Homo sapiens: one gene and its partners. The protein of the gene in region 3 purifies or fractionates together with the protein of the main gene of each other region. This does not show direct contact. Each region holds a gene or a part of one and is shown on either strand. Other genes may lie near its edges.

Region 1 (3,500 bases), on a different chromosome or scaffold from region 3:
CCTAAACCGAAGTCAGAGGGAAATCAAATCTAGTTAATGTCTCATAATACTCAGAAGTCCTAGAATTTTAAGTATGCTTTGTTGGTTTACATTGGAAATTAGCCAAGAAACAATTTTATTTTTAAGAGCAAAGAGTAAATATATATGAAGTGAATCAATCTTTTAAAAAATGCTTTTCTTTAGTGCCCCATTTTTGACAACTTTTAATTTGCATTTTTTTGTGATTAAGGCTGTTGTAGTGACTGATGGAGAGAGAATTCTGGGTCTTGGAGATCTGGGTGTCTATGGAATGGGAATTCCAGTAGGAAAACTTTGTTTGTATACAGCTTGTGCAGGAATACGGCCTGATAGATGCCTGCCAGTGTGTATTGATGTGGGAACTGATAATATCGTGAGTAACATCATTTTCCCCCTTTATCTTCCTCCTGTATTTTTTAAAATGTGTACAATATTCCTTTTTTGAAAATGATAATTTAAGAAGGGAAAGTTTTATGATTAGATTTTTTTTTCTTAAACTCCACTTTTAATATTTATATAAATAATAGTAAATTAAGTCTATTAAAAGTTTCTTGGTCCGGGCATGGTGGCTCATACCTGTAATCCCAGGACATTGGAAGGCCGAGGCAGGCAGATCACCAAAAGTCAGGAGTTCGAGACCAGCCTGGCCAACATGGTGAAACCCAGACTCTACTAAAAATACAAAAAAAATTAGCTGGGCGTGGTGGCACATGCTTGTAATCCCAGCTACAAGGCTGAGGCAAGAGAATTGCTTGAATGCAAAAGACAGAGGTTGCAGTGAGCCGAGATCACACCATTGCACTCCAGCCTGGGTGACAAGAGTGAGACTGTCTCAAAAAAGAAAAAATAAAGTTTCTTGTAGGGCAATACATTTAAAAAATTGTATTAGTAATTTTTTATTTTGCAATTTTTATTGTATGTGTTTAAACTGATTATATAAATTATTTTATTTTTACATTTGGTTTATTTTGTAGGCACTCTTAAAAGACCCATTTTACATGGGCTTGTACCAGAAACGAGATCGCACACAACAGTATGATGACCTGATTGATGAGTTTATGAAAGCTATTACTGACAGGTATTTTTTAAAAGTTTGAGTATATGAAAGCACCTTTAATGGGGTGGGTGGGGTAAGAACCAAAGTTTTGTTTTGTTTTCCTTTATTTCTTTCCTGTGTAGATAAGCAGGAGGCGATTAAATTTTTGAGAACTTTGTTCTGCCTGGCTGTTTCTGCCTGATTAGATGTGCCGATATGAGGTGGTACCCATGGTCTGCCTTGCTTTCTTGAGTTACCTGACATTTTGAGGGAAGTCTGCCCTCACTGCTTCCATCAAACGCTTACTGCTCAGTACCTTTTTCAGCCTTGACCTTCAGGCTCACGCCCACCATTCCACTGAAGCTCTTGTGCAGCTTTTGTATTTTAAGTTCTCTGACCATTGGGTCCTCCCACTTCTCTACCTCTTTGCACCGTCAACTCAGGTTTTCCCACTTCTATGTCCTTGAAACTCTCTCTTCTCTTGACTGCTAAACAGCTTCCTCCTAACTTGGTCTTTCTCCCACCTTTCTCTTTTTTTTTTTTTTTGTCATCTTCACAGGTTCTTGCTGTCTCTTACTAAATGTGGATAACTACCTAGTCCTCTTCTCTTTCAGCCATGTCAACTATGACCTTTATGCATGTTACTACTAAACCCATAAAAACCCATCTGTAGTTCCACTGCTCTTGTGAGGCCTGCATTTCTAATAATCAGAATCTTCCATCTGGGTATTCTGTTATGAGTGCATATTCATATCCCACACTGAACTCCTTTCCTTTCCAAACAACCTATCTTCTGTATTCCCAGCTTCTATTATTGGCAGTAACATTCATCCTGTTGCCAAAACTTTGATCTTAGTGTTATCTTTGACTCTTCTGCCTTCTCCGTCAGTCAGATTTCAGATATTCCTCAAATTCAGTGGGTACTACCACTTAAATGTCTCCTGTTTTCCATTGCCGCAATCTTGCTCTCTCCTTATCTCTCTTCTGGAGTTTTCTAATTCTTCCTCCAGTTTCTCTCCTCTCCAGTTCGTCTCCACCTTAATACCAGATTAATTGTTTTGAAACGTGTGCTTCATTTTGTCATTCTTTTGCTTGAAATCTCTGATTGGTTTCCTATTGCCATAGGATAAAGTCAAACTCTTTTACCTTAATGATCTAACCCTGGCCTACCTTTAAAATTGCTGGCACGTAGAAGATATTTAAACATTAATTCCTTTTCAGAGTCAAAGTCAACAAGTCTAAAGCTGAACTTTACATCTTCTCAGAAATTGCCATCTCTCCTTCTTCCTCTCACTTTCCTATCTTGGACAACCAAATAGTACCTTCTTAGTTACCCCATTACCTTCACATTGTAACAGCTTCTTCCTCATTTCCCAGTTGATCCTTATCAATTTCTATTCATCCTAATAGTTCATAGTTACTCCTTTTGCTTCCTGCATCTTCTGCTTCAGATCTCTTGTCTTCGTATCATAGTAGCCTCCTAGTTGCTTCTGCCACTCCCGTCTCCCCACACCAATATGAGCTACGTATCACTGGCAGGTTTATCCTTCCTAAAGGGAGTCATATGTGAATATTTTCCTTTCTCTGCAGCCTTCACTGTTTCTACATGGGATGCAGAAGAAAGTCCCTCTTCTCTAATTTAGCATTCGAGATCCTCCCTTATTTGGTTCCAACCTGCATTAACCAATTTCTCCCTTATCTCTTAATGTAAACCATGAAATATATAGCCAGACTGTTGAAAATTCAGGGTCACCCTAATAACAGCCTGCTTTTCTTCCTAGCTCTTTACTTTTTGTTCTTTCAGGGCCCACCTCCTTTTCAAGCCTTCCCTTACTACTTGAGCTCACCTAGACGATTAACATCTTCTTTTTCTGAATGTCAGTGAACTCAAATAGCAATTATTTTTCAATTTCTTATTTAATATATACTTTCTTGTGTTGCTGTTTAACTATTAATGTAATGAGAATATACATATCAAATATATATTTTTTGAGGTTCAGAGTCAAAGGAAGTGTCCTCCTGGACACTTGAAAATAGTTTACATAGATTGATAGCCCATGGGTTTATCATTGTGCCACATTCTTTTTAAACACCTCATACTTTTTTTATTGAATAATTTCTACATTTTGGATCTAGTCTTTCACAGGCTCTGAAATTTTTCAGATGGCCTTAATTGAACTAACATAATACATTATTTTTGAATGCTATCATAGGGAATATTAGGTGGAAAGCTGTTTAATAGTGTTATTTTCAACACAACTATTGTGGGTTTTGCTGTTTTTAGATATGGCCGGAACACACTCATTCAGTTCGAAGACTTTGGAAATCATAATGCATTCAGGTTCTTGAGAAAGTACCGAGAAAAATATTGTACTTTCAATGATGATATTCAAGGTAAAGCAAAAAAACTTCAGGGTTTTGATTCCTACTTTTTAAACATTTTTAA
Region 2 (3,500 bases), on a different chromosome or scaffold from region 3:
AGATGTCTGGTGGGCAGTTTGCCATATGAGTCTAGAGGATGGAAAAATTAGCTGAATATAAAAAACATAAATTTAGGTGGCAACCAAGCCATGGGTGAGGAAAATAGCTTGCAGGAACTCTGAGGAAAGAATGGAGAAGATGACTAAGGCCAGAGCTCCAGGGAGCACCTACCCAGAAAGAACAGACAATGAATAACCCTGAGAATGAACTAAAGATAGGAGAAACAGAGGGAGCGGGAGTGGTGTGAGAGACACCAAGGGAGGCCAAGAGCCAAGGTTGCAGTGCCAGCTTTGGCTGTTAAGTGGCAGGGACCTTGCTGAGTATCAGTTCAGTGGGTCTTATGACCAAAGGTCATCTGCTGTAGAGGGAGTGCTGGAAAGTGACCATGAAGATAGTTTCAAGCCAATATGAAGAAGCAGCTATAGGGAGATGCAGGATTTAGGGTGAGCTCAAGATGGGAAAGACTATGTGTGTGGTTCCTCAGAGAATAATGAGAAAGCAGATACCATGGAGGGGAAGTGGGGGCTGTGACTCTCCCTGGAAAGCAAGGAAGACTCCCCACAGCCCCATTAACAGCAACCTGGGCATGGCTGACACAAAAGAACTCAGAGAAGGCTCTTTCTGCCTGGAATGAAACCACTACACAGTAGGCTAAATGCTTCAGAGACCAGGGTCTGCTAACCCCGGTGGCTCAGGAACCAATAACGAGGAATAGGAAGTTGGGGACAGTAAACACAAGATGAAGTCCCTAGGTAGGCCAGGGACTGGGGGGCTCCTGGAGCCCCTTTTCCTTCTCCACAGGTCTCCTCTGGCTCTGCAGGCCCAGGAACCTACATTGCTGGGGCAGAGTAACATAGCTGACTGAGCTGGGGCTCTGGAGCTGAACTAAACTAGGTTTGTGTTGGCCTCACTAGGGCGCCAACCAGCTGTGTGACTATAGACAAGTTACCATATCTAAGTCTCAGTCCCCTTATCTCTAAATAAAGATAATATCATCAATTTTAAAGAGCTTGTGGCAAGAATTCAATAAGATGACATATGAAGATGTCTCCTATGCTCCCCAGGATGCTAATGACCAGTAGCTATTATCAACATGTCTCCCAGATGCCAAGAATGCTAAGAATGGCTCCCTGGCACTCAGCATCCTCCCCAGAGCCAACTCGAATGTCTACTCCCTGGAGAGCATTTGGGAGAGTGACAGCTGAGCTGAGTGCTGATAGGCAATCAGACATGGAGTAGCCTAGCTGACATGGGTAAAGGTATTCCTATAGAGGGGTTGAGACAAAAGAGCTGAGTGATAGGGAAAGCTGAGTACAATGGGCAAGGAAGCCAGGAAAATGGAGTCATGCAGGACCCCAAAGACCACACACAGGAGGAGTTTGGGTTTAGCTTTGGAAATTAAGCACAGTAATCAGGAACTCATGTGAACAAATGTGTGCTTAAGACCACATGGAGGATGGTCTTAAGCAGTAAGCTGGAGGTAGGAGACAAGTCAGAATGGTATTTTGATAATCAAATTGAGAAAAAAGTAGCTGTGAGGCTGGAGTCAGGGGATAAGCACGGAAGACATGAGAGAAGGAGGTAGAATCCATAGGCCTTAGGCTTCTGGCTTAGGCAGCCAGAGGATGGAGGTCCTTTTTGCTGAGATAGAAGGATGAGGGGGAAGGTAAAGTGTTTACAAGGAGATGAGGATTTCAGTTCAGGACACATGAAGTTCGAGAAGTCCATGGGACATTCAAGTACAGATGTCCCAAAGGCATCCGTCTACACTGGTTAGAAGCTCGGGAGACAAGCCTTGGCAAGAAACACAGATCTGGATGTCATCCACCTCAGGTGATGGAAATGGCTGTGCTCACCTGGGGAAGGTGCTCAGGGAGAAGATGAGGTAAGGATGGAGTCCTAGGGAGTAATTCCTTTCTGCCCCATAACCCTATTCAGGACACTCATGGGTTTGCTGAGTGAACGTGAGAGGTCAACGCCAGGGTATGGTTCCCTCCTCCAAGCAACCAATCTCAAGGCTACAGAGTGAACAGATCTTGCAGGTGCCCTGAACTGCCCTCTCTCTAATGGAGTCTAAAGGGGGCAGCTGAGGTTCTGGAGCTGGAATAAGCTGGGTCTGCATGAGCCTCACACAGTGAATCGCTGGGGTTACTTGTCTCCAGCAGCCCTCAAAACATCTTCTTATAAACACTAACACTGGGAAGTCAGTGGGAGAGGGGCCACTTGAGAGAAAATGACCAGAGAGGCTAAAAGAGAAGCAGATATCAGTATGCCAGAATTCAAAGGAGGAGAGAACATCACAAAGAATGAGGCAATCTATCTGTCAAATGCTGCTGGGAAGTTAAAGAACATTATGTGTGAACCTTGTTCGCTGGGTTTACCAGCCAAGCGGCCACTGATGACCTTGTAAGAACAGCATCAGTGACAGTGGGGAAAAAGGCCAGATACTGTGAGTTCAGGAGTATATGGGAACCAGGAAAATGGACAGAGTGTAGATTACTCTATCCAGTAGCCTAACCAGGAGGGGAGAAGAGATGAATCAGCAGCAAAGACTCGAAAGACTCTCAGATACCGAGGGAGGCAAGTGTTAAGATGAGCAAGAATAGAGCCTATATGGGAGCTCAAGGGTAGAACCCAGAGAGGTGGAGACAGAATGTATAGGAGCAGAGACTGTAACTAAGAGGACTCAAGACAGGGGGATAGTAAGCCCAGATCAGCCTTAGATGAAAAGACATTGGAGGGTGGGAGACAAGAAGCAGGTCTGAATGCAGATCTGTGTGGTGCTCTGGGGACAGACGTGGAGGGGGTTCCTGAGCAGCAACTTTGGCTTTCTCTGAGATGCAAGAGGAGAGGGCCTTGGCTAATACATGGAGGGAGGTGGCAGGGCAGGGGCTGAGGGAGAAACCTGTCATGGGAGAGGGAGTCCAGCACAAACTGGTGAGCCAAGAGGTGCACCAGAGGTGCACCCGAGGTTAAAGGCCACAAGTTGGTGGTGGCTCCAACCTGTCCCGCCACTAAAGAGACACATGCGGGACAGGCAACGCCTGGAGTGGTGAGTTACCTGGAAGTTCCCCTCTGGAAATTGTGCCTGGGTCCAGCCTGTATGTGTCCTGAAGTCTCATCAGGGCTTTGGCAGCTCCTATCTCGTCCTCATCAGTGGGGAAGAACTGCCGCTGCACAGAGAGGTTGGCGATAAAACCTTCCAAATGAGAGTCAGAACAAGAGATTACCCTTGATCCAGGGGCAGAATTCCACTTGGGACCAGAGAGGCAGCCACAAAGAGGGTCTCTGGCTAGTGAAATTTCCCCGCCCCCTCCCTCAAAGGCTGTTGCCCCCTTCCACCAGGAAGTTGTCCCTGATGACTCCAGTCTATGGGGACTTTTCCTTTCTTACTCCTCACCATACCTACTGCCTGTGTTGCTCTTTGGAACTAAGTAGAAGCAGCCCCCCATATTGGTTAATATTTAGGAGTCCAGAAGTCTTGGCTCCAAATCATTCA
Region 3 (3,500 bases):
GGAAACTGATCTGGGAAGGTTTACTTGAAGCTAGCTAACAAAATAACTAAACTGGAAATAGGCCTCCTAATTTTGGTTTTAAATTGCTGCATTCTACCTTGCGCCACATTTTAGATCCTTGTCAAGTAAGTTCAAGCAAATGGGAGAGAAATTAGATTATTTTATTGGCTTTTCTAAAGAAGGAAAAGAAGGTGAGCAGGTGCAGGAGGGGGAAAAAGAAGAGAAGGAGAAATCAAGTGTGAATAATAATAATTTAAGAAACCTCGAAAAATGGTTTCTGTAATCTGCATATATAGTTACACAGATGATCGTTTTCTTTCCTCAGTGAATGCTGTCTTAAGATGAAATTTACCTAAATGTACAATAAATGAGAATCAAGACTCTTCTATTTATGTAGTATATCTGATTGAATAATAATGTTCGATGCTGTCACTGAAATCAAAAAATGACACAAAAGTGTCTTATAGAAAATATTAAACTGTTTCCTATTTTAAAAATTCCCCAAGTGATTCATATGTAATATTATAGAATCAAAGAAACACAGTTTCTGTACTAAAAACTGTTATTTATTCTGGCTTTTGGATCAGTATAAACACTAGATATTTATGTTATGGACATCACTTTCAGTGTGTTAATAAAAGATGTCCAAATATTTTTATTCTAAAAATAACCTTAGGATTTCTTCATTGAAAGAGGCATGTTATTAGGACATTTTTTTTTTTTAATAAAGGCGTGCTTTTTCTTTTTCTCCTAGGGCCCACGAGGTTTGCTGGGTCCAAGGGGAACTCCAGGAGCTCCAGGGCAGCCTGTATGTATTGCTGGAAACATTGAAGATTTTCTAGGGAAAGCTTGTTGCCAACCTTTTAGAGGCCATAAAAGCCCTCAGTAGAGAGCCAAGAGTTTATTGCCTTGTTATGTTTGAAGATCTATTGTTGCTGCCTTTCACTTTAACTCATCATTCCCTCCTTTTCTTCTATCTTCCTTTTGATTATCTATCTTAGTGTTTTCATGATACATCCCCAGCATGCAGAGGAAAATGTTGCTAGATTGTCTCCAATGTGGACATGGAAAAGAAAGTATAGGTCTTGTCTCTTCTTCGTTTCCATTAAATCCTAAAATGATTTTTAGTTGCTTAGGGTAGTGAATATCATGATATTAGATTAGTCTTTTTGATTTTCTGTTTTAGCATCAAAACATATAAACAACCATAAATACTTTTTCTTCATTGCAGGGTATGGCAGGTGTAGATGGCCCCCCAGGACCAAAAGGGAACATGGTATGTAGCAAATAGTGATAAAATAACTCATATTTGAATATAAGCCCTAAGAAACCATTTTTTGTTGTTAAATCTAAAATATAATGATTTATTACATTTTGCTAAGTATATTAGATACAGCTTGCATTAATATTTTGAAATATTTTCCAGAATCTCATGAGGGAAAACTGTTTGAGGGTGGGTAGAGGTATTTTCCAATTGAGAAGAACAAAAATCTATTGTGTAATATAGCCCATTAAAAACTTTTTATATTTTCCTCTGGCAGGGTCCCCAAGGGGAGCCTGGGCCTCCAGGTCAACAAGGGAATCCAGGACCTCAGGTAAGTCTAAGCCACTGCAGCTCCTTTGAAATAATGGGGGGAAGATGCTATCTTTCTATAAGAAAATCGACAGTCTCACAATTTTCTATGTAGTCCTAGCAATATTTAAAATGTGAATGTAGGAAAATACATACTTTTCTTTTTTTAAAAAAATTTGAGCAAACTTGCAGAAGCCCCTCTCTTCCCAGGGAAAAATGACTCATTCAATGTTTAGGGAATGCCAGGACTAATAGCCACCTGCAGGAGGGTTCTGAATAGGATCGCATTATAGTCCCTTTGCAAAAAAGAGCAGCTTGTGTAAAACTCCTCATCGTGTTCTAAAATTCCTTGGGGTGTATGGGAATATATACAGATTCTTATAACTCACTGTGTACTATAGTGAGCTAATAATTTGCTGTTTTAAAAGCATATTACTGTGATTTGATATCTGATATATGAAATAAATTCTTTTAAAATAGGGTCTTCCTGGTCCACAAGGTCCAATTGGTCCTCCTGGTGAAAAAGTAAGTTACTCTGTTGTTCTCGTAAAGCCTGGTGAACATGTTTGTTTTAGCAATCTTAGGCAGGTATAAGGTCTGCCTTCTGTTTTTGTTAAGATATCTAGATAGCTCAGCACATAAGGAATTAATCTGGAGTCGACATGGAAATATAGTGTGGGGAGATTTCATTCATGTGTTCTTAAACTGAGAATGATAAAACTTCAGTTACCATTTAAACAGCTTCCAAATGTGGCATTCTCAGCTATGTTAATTTCAGGAACATAACGGTATGAGTGAATATTTTCTCTTTATTTTAGGTCTCCTTTTCTTTCTCATTATTTTACAAAAAAGTAATTAAGTTTGCTTGTGACAAAAGATTTGTAGGAAGACATGATGAAAGGAAAGTTGTGAAGTTGTCATTGCCATTATATCTCATATATGAATAGCAAATGATGTTCTTGTTAATAACTCAATGTCTGGATCAAAACAAGAATAAATCTATAATTAAACACATGTCTTTTTCCCTGATCTCCACTGTGAGATTCCTTGAGTAATATTTTGTCCCCTGTAGTCATAGCACATTTCTATCTGGCTCTTTCCAACACCTTTTTTCTTTCATTATTTTTGTTGATTTCTACAAACATATTAATTAAAAAAAACTAATAGCTTTATCGAAGTGTAATTTAAATACTATAAATATTCCCTTGTTTTAAGTGTACAAGTGAATTATTTTTACTAAATTTACAGATGTGCTGCAATCTAAGTTTCGGAATACTTATACCACTCCAGAAATAATCCTCGTGTTAATATTCAGTCCATGTTTCCACCCCCTCAGACCTAGCTAACAATTAATTTGCTTTCTGTCTCTGTAGATTTGAGTTTTCTGAATATTTCATGTGAATGAAACTTATGAATAAATTTATGATTTAATCATATGAATGTGTATGTGACCTTTATGTCTGACTTCTTTCATTTTAGGTTCATCCATGCTGTAGCATACATATATTAGTACTTTGCTCCTTATTTTGTTCTCATAGTATTCCATTGATTGGGTATACCAGGTTCTGTTTACTTTTACTTGGCAGTTGATAGAATAGGTGTAGTTTATACTTTTTCGCTATTCTCCATACCGGTGCTGTAGTGAATAATTGCATACAAGTCTTTGTATAGATGTGTTTTCATTCTTTTTGGTATATACTTAGAAGCAGAATTCTTGTGTTATGGTAAACTTATATTCAATATTTTGTGAATTCCACTCTTTTCCATATCGATTGTACCATTTTCCCTTCCAAGTAACCATGTATGAGGATAGTCATTTCTGCACATTCTCACTAATGCTTGTTATTGTCTGTCTTCTTGATTACGATCATTCTCGTTGGTGTGAAATGTTATCTCATTGTGGTTGTAATTTGCATTTTCCTAATCA

What was found. The genes of interacting proteins can lie anywhere in the genome.
Region 1: the proteins of COL11A1 (region 3) and ME2 fractionate together in Homo sapiens (co-fractionation; one large-scale study listed by BioGRID). This does not show direct contact.
Region 2: the proteins of COL11A1 (region 3) and P4HA2 purify together in Homo sapiens (co-immunoprecipitation; one large-scale study listed by IntAct). This does not show direct contact.

What each region holds. Positions count from the first base shown.
Region 1 is NC_000018.10:50,917,118-50,920,617, forward strand, and holds part of ME2 (NAD-dependent malic enzyme, mitochondrial isoform 1 precursor), read left to right. Parts: intron 1-229; coding exon 230-391; intron 392-992; coding exon 993-1,096; intron 1,097-3,338; coding exon 3,339-3,448; intron 3,449-3,500.
Region 2 is NC_000005.10:132,210,854-132,214,353, forward strand, and holds part of P4HA2 (prolyl 4-hydroxylase subunit alpha-2 isoform 2 precursor), read right to left. Parts: intron 3,201-3,500; coding exon 3,063-3,200; intron 1-3,062. UniProt on the Homo sapiens protein: Catalyzes the post-translational formation of 4-hydroxyproline in -Xaa-Pro-Gly- sequences in collagens and other proteins.
Region 3 is NC_000001.11:103,000,523-103,004,022, reverse strand, and holds part of COL11A1 (collagen alpha-1(XI) chain isoform A preproprotein), read left to right. Parts: intron 1-754; coding exon 755-808; intron 809-1,231; coding exon 1,232-1,276; intron 1,277-1,541; coding exon 1,542-1,595; intron 1,596-2,053; coding exon 2,054-2,098; intron 2,099-3,500. UniProt on the Homo sapiens protein: May play an important role in fibrillogenesis by controlling lateral growth of collagen II fibrils.